Linked DNA regions of Homo sapiens. The protein of the gene in region 2 interacts with the protein of the main gene of each other region in a pairwise test. Each region holds a gene or a part of one and is shown on either strand. Other genes may lie near its edges.

What was found. The genes of interacting proteins can lie anywhere in the genome.
Region 1: the proteins of CLDN20 (region 2) and CNIH3 interact in binary tests that used the Homo sapiens proteins (3 or more experiments, as listed by UniProt).

The regions. Positions count from the first base shown.
Region 1 is NC_000001.11:224,738,268-224,741,054, forward strand, and holds the end of CNIH3 (protein cornichon homolog 3), read left to right. Parts: intron 1-1,061; coding exon 1,062-1,089; 3' UTR 1,090-2,287; downstream 2,288-2,787. UniProt on the Homo sapiens protein: Regulates the trafficking and gating properties of AMPA-selective glutamate receptors (AMPARs).
Region 2 is NC_000006.12:155,274,001-155,277,085, forward strand, and holds the end of CLDN20 (claudin-20 precursor), read left to right. Parts: intron 1-1,615; 5' UTR 1,616-1,719; coding exon 1,720-2,379; 3' UTR 2,380-2,548; downstream 2,549-3,085. UniProt on the Homo sapiens protein: Plays a major role in tight junction-specific obliteration of the intercellular space, through calcium-independent cell-adhesion activity.

The DNA.
Region 1 (2,787 bases), on a different chromosome or scaffold from region 2:
AAACAAAGGTATCCACTTGAGGCTTAGTACTGTTATGCAAAAAGCACTGGCTTTGGAGTTAGAATGTGGCTTCTCGCCCTGCTGTCACTCCTCATCTGGCCCTCAGCTTCCCCAAGTAGAGTAAGTCCCTCTTGCTCCAGGTCTGACCAGTGGTTCTCTGTGTACATGAGGTGTGTGAGGTTCCTGAAGATGGAACTTGAGCTACTCAGAGGAGCTCATTGGGCATCCACAGCTGCAAAGGGTTAGAAGTCAAACCTTTTCATTTCTTTCCTTTGGTTTTACTTCTTAGATGAATCTTTTTTTCTCACTATAATGTGAAAAGATAGTTGGTTTCTTTTTCTGCGAAATAGACAAAGAGGTATATTTTGGTGCAGATCATTCCTCAGCCTTGCAAAATTACCCTGAAGCCCTTACTAAGCGCACAGGGATACATGTCCCCTTCACCCCACTCTTAGTAGTATTGGGGCAATACTTTAGGTCACACACTTTTAATGCATGTTTAATTCCTGGAGTCCATTAAAAATAAGAGGGCCAGGGAGTTACCCAATCAAGAATTCATTGAGTTCTGGTGCCCAGAGGGCTTATGTTCCCACGCTGGCCTTTGCAGTAGTGATGATGATCTTTCCCCCAGCACTACCGTATTATCCAGCATCATCTGGGAGCCCCTGGACACAGCCATCATGCAAGCACATGGCAGCTGGTGGCATAAAGAATCCACTGCACCCCCACCTCCACCCCCAGACCTGCCCTGCAATTGCACAAAAAGGAAAACAACCATAATCATCATCCTGATGAGAATGATAATAGGCACTTAGAGCTTTCACATCTTTTATCCAAGGGATACAATATGCTCTCCCAAAAAATTTTTATTCCAGTGTTGTGGGAAGTAGAAGGGGCACAGTAGTGGAGTTGGCGAGATGCTGTAGTGACAGGAATGAGGGAGAAGCCAAGGGGTCTGGCCTCTGGAAGGTCCCTCTCCTGAGGGGCAGCCTGAGTCCTCTGTGGGCTTCTACTAACACCTTCCTCTCTTTTTTTTTTTTTTTTTTTTTTTTTGCATTCAGCATGATCTACACTTTAGTGAGCTCTTAACGCAAAGACCATGCACATCATCAGAGACTGAGATGGGAGAGGCCTGAGACGGAGAGGTGCATTTCTGCTGGTGACTGGAGGAGGGACCAGAATGAGGATACGTGAGAAATAGACCCGGCAGGCAGTCAGACTGAATGGGAGCTGGAATCACGCAGCAGCTGGGAGCCGAGTTAACCCTGCGTGTCTGTGTCACCCTGTTTGTCAATCTTTGGCATTCGAATTCCACACACGGGGTCCTAGAGCCCTTCTGAGCATCAGTGGTGTGGGGGAGTAGGTGACGAAACACTAGACCTCTCCTGAGAGAGAATTGCTGCTTCCTGAATCCACTTCATTGAACAGCACCTTGCAAGTTCAAATGAGTTCCTGGGAGCGGAGGCTGGAAGGCCACAAGGTGCTTGCTAAGGAACAGAATGACCCAGAGTCAAGGCCAAGTCTGCAGGGACCTGTTGAAAGCCTCGAGAATGTCTTGGCTGCCCAAGACTCTTGTTGCCTTTCTTCCAAGCCATGGCCATGCCCTTTTTCTCAAATGGGAGGGGCTGGAGGGTGTGTGGGATTTGTCTTCAGCTGCAACCAGCCTTGAGCCTGCTGGGCTATTTTCAGCTGAGGAGGGGTGAATATAGGAAAAATGCATTTTTGAAACGTTTGCAACATGATCAAGGTGTTAGTTCTCCACCACACAAGTTGTATTCTTCTTTTGCCACCTCAAACCATCACAGAGTCTTTAAATGCAAATCAATTGGTCAATGCTAGTCAAAGCTATGTTCTTACAAAAACCCCAGACAGCTCAGAGCTCAGAAAATCCTGTGGAGTGGCTGCTCTGTACCGTGGGCATCCGGCAGCCAGGAAGTGAGACAACATAATTATAACTTTGTTTTATGATGCTGCATCATTTGTACTGTTTAGGTCGACGTGAGGACATCATCTTATTTAGAATTTTCCGTTTGGCATTCTCTTTTGGGTGGGAGTTATGCTGGGGGTTGTAAATAATGACAAGGCTGAGATTTTTATGATGTTTAAATTGGGCACAATGATTTTGACCTTATTCCCCAAACTTCTTTTCTTTTCTACTGTTTAACATACACAGGCTATTTATACACGTCCCCAGCTCCCATCTGAAACCTGTGACTCAGGTTTATGAATGGTGTTTGTGTAGCAACACATTGTGTGCTATGTTTATTAAAATGCAGCGACAACTTGAGTGTCTCACTTAACTGGCTCTCTCATTTCAACCATTACAGCTGAATTTGTCTACATATGGTTGGAAAACTGATAGGAAGAAAAGGCAAATTTTCAAAAAGGCATCATGCTGCTAAAAATTCTGTGGAAAACAAAATGCAGACTTTTACTCTGAGGTTTATGGTATAAAACTGGAGAATTTGAGGTGATGATTTTGGGAGAAGGCTTCCTCTTGGCCAATGCCCTTTTTACCGACCAGGTAACTGTTGTTAGGGATAGAGTTACCTTTCGGCTGCTTGGGCCTGGCTTTGGCTTCATTCCTGAGAAGACTAGTGACCCTCATCCAGAGAGGCAAGCCTTGGATGGCAGGCTGCAGACGCTAATCTAATCGCACAGCCGTCCTGCAAATGCAACTGGATGTAGAAGGTGAATGGTCTGTGTTACTTCTCACCATGGAGCTGTTTTGTTTCTATACTCTGTCTTCTTTCAGAAAGATTTGTAGTGGCTCATAATAGGAGACAC
Region 2 (3,085 bases):
TTCTGTGGCTTAAATATTGGTCTAAGCCCTTAAAATGTATTAACTTATTTAACCCTATGAACGAAGTATTTCAATCCTCCCCATTTTCCAGAAGAGGATACTGAGGCACAGAGAGGTATAAAGCTAAGAACTGGCCCAAGTGTCTTTGACTCAAGAGCCTGTATCACCTTTTGTAAAATACATATGAATCACGACAGAGCCACTTTAGCATACCATTCAAAATTAACTCAGAATGACAAAGAAAGTCAGTACTGCAGTATTTCAGAAACCATTACATTTTTCTCAAATAAGGCAGTAAGCAGTGCCAGATGGGCTAGATAGGGGAACAGGAATAGAAAGATGGAATCGAAAGCCTTTTTGTTTCTTAAAACACAGCCAAGCCACAAAGTAGGTGGTCTTTTCCTTCCTCTTAAAAATAAACAAAGAAAATAAAGGGTTAATTTATTTCTGGTATCCTTTCACATACAACTAATGATGTGGTTATTTCTGGTATGTATTTTTGAGATCTGCCATCACTACTTCTGAATTGTTCAGAATAGCCGGCTTCATTTGGGCCAGGAAATGATTCTGGTCCCAATTAGAAAGGACCTCATGTTCTTATATACAAAAAACAGTGGCTTAATTGTTTTGAGTACCAGGCACCTGAAGTAAAACAAGTACTAACCTCAGTCAGGATTTTGCAAACAGGTATTAACTAGAACTTAGGGATAACCATGCCAGTGACTCAGACTTCTTTCCACTGCTGTCCTTCCTCCTCAAATGGTTCACTTGGGCTATGTGCCTGGCACTGTGGGTGTGTCATAAAGATCTGTTTATGAAAGCCACTTCCTAAATACTTTTCTAAAATGTATTTATAAACCATCTTTAAAAGGTGGCCTTAATTTATTTTCTTCCTTATTATGTATTGAGTATTTTCATTAAAAATAAAATCATTTGGGCGAGGCGTGGTGGCTCACGCCTGTAATCCCAGCACTTCGGGAGGCCGAGGTGGGCGGATCACGAGGTCAGGAGATCGAGACCATCCTGGCTAACAGGGTGAAACCCCATCTCTACTAAAAATACAAAAAAAAAAAAAATTAGCCGGGCATGGTGGCGGGCGCCTGTAGTCCCAGCTACTCGGGAGGCTGAGGCAGGAGAATGGTGTGAACCCAGGAGGTGGAGCTTGCAGTGAGCCAAGATCGCTCCACTGCACTCCAGCCTGGGTGACAGAGTGAGACTCCATCTCAAAAAAAATAAAAATAAAAAATAAAATCATTTGAAAAACCTATAATGCTATTAAAATTCTTTATCAGATACTATAGCTGGAATTTCAAATGTCTAAATCTCCTAACAACGTACATGTCCACGCTACAGTTTCAGCATATGTTGAGTTTTAAAAAGAATTAAGTGGGCAACTGCTTTCTTTATGCCCTGTATCAACACCACCCATGCATATCACTCAGACCAGTCTTCAAGGCCTGGTGGGAGCTTTTCTCCTCCAGCCTACAGCATCCTCATCTGCTTGGGGGCTGGAGAAGGGGGATACTCAGATGTGTTCTTGGCTCCTACTCTAAAGGGAAGCCTTTTGTTTACTTACTTTCTTTCGCTCAATCCTGGTTTTGCCTTTTTTCCTTAGGCTTTGTTATTTGGTTCTCTACTGCACAGAAATAGATAGAATTCTGACAGCCATCATTGTTAAACATCAGGATTTTCTAAGAGGACAGACTTAACAGTAACATCATGGCCTCAGCAGGACTCCAGCTCCTTGCTTTCATCCTGGCCTTATCTGGGGTCTCTGGAGTGCTCACAGCCACTCTGCTGCCCAACTGGAAGGTGAATGTGGATGTGGACTCCAACATCATAACAGCCATTGTACAGCTGCACGGGCTCTGGATGGACTGTACGTGGTACAGCACTGGGATGTTCAGCTGTGCCCTGAAACACTCCATTCTGTCCCTCCCCATCCACGTGCAGGCTGCGAGAGCCACCATGGTCCTGGCGTGTGTTCTGTCTGCTTTGGGGATCTGCACTTCCACAGTAGGAATGAAATGTACTCGCTTAGGAGGGGACAGAGAAACCAAGAGCCATGCTTCCTTTGCTGGAGGAGTCTGTTTCATGTCTGCAGGAATCTCTAGTTTAATCTCGACAGTGTGGTACACAAAGGAGATCATAGCAAACTTTCTGGATCTGACAGTTCCAGAAAGCAACAAACATGAACCTGGAGGAGCTATCTATATCGGATTCATTTCTGCAATGCTGTTGTTTATCTCTGGCATGATTTTCTGCACCTCCTGTATAAAAAGGAATCCAGAAGCTAGACTCGACCCACCCACACAGCAGCCTATCTCTAACACACAGCTCGAGAACAATTCCACACACAATCTGAAGGATTATGTGTAAATAACTGAGTAATGCATATGAAATGGAACTTTTGGGTGCCAAATGGGACTTTTAGATTAAAAAAAAATCAGAATTATGCTTAACTTTCCCTACAAAGAAAGTAGAATGTAAAATACTTTAACAACTACAAAGTAGTTTAAAATGCCAATAAAACTATCATATACAATTACATCTGTCTGAAGAGTTCTTTATTTTTTCCATTATTGTTTCCATGTTTTACTTAAAGATTTATAATTGAAAGAGGTTCTGATTACATTCATAAGGCAATTATTTGATAGCTTTTTCAAGATAATTTGCTGATACACCTTTCAAACTGGATTTTATAAAAGAACTAAACTGCCAAGTATAAAAAGTACCTTGCCCTGGTGTTAACCAAGAATATTATCCACTTTGCTATCTGGTTGGCAACAACACAGCAACTTGCTTCTGTTTTAAAGCTACAGTGTGTGAAAGTACATTAGGAATACAAGAGCTGCCTACTCCATTCAGATGCTGCTAAAACCATCCATCCCAAGTCCCCACCTCCTGTGACCAGCCCATTTCTTTTTCATTTTAGAAAACTATCTACATATATTTGTAAGAGCTGACAATATTATATGCAAACTAAGATTAGGCAGAACTGAAGAAATTGGTAAATGCTACCACAGTAAAGAAAGCCAAACCAAACTAAAATCTCTAGGACTCTTAAAGCATTAAGTACAAGCTA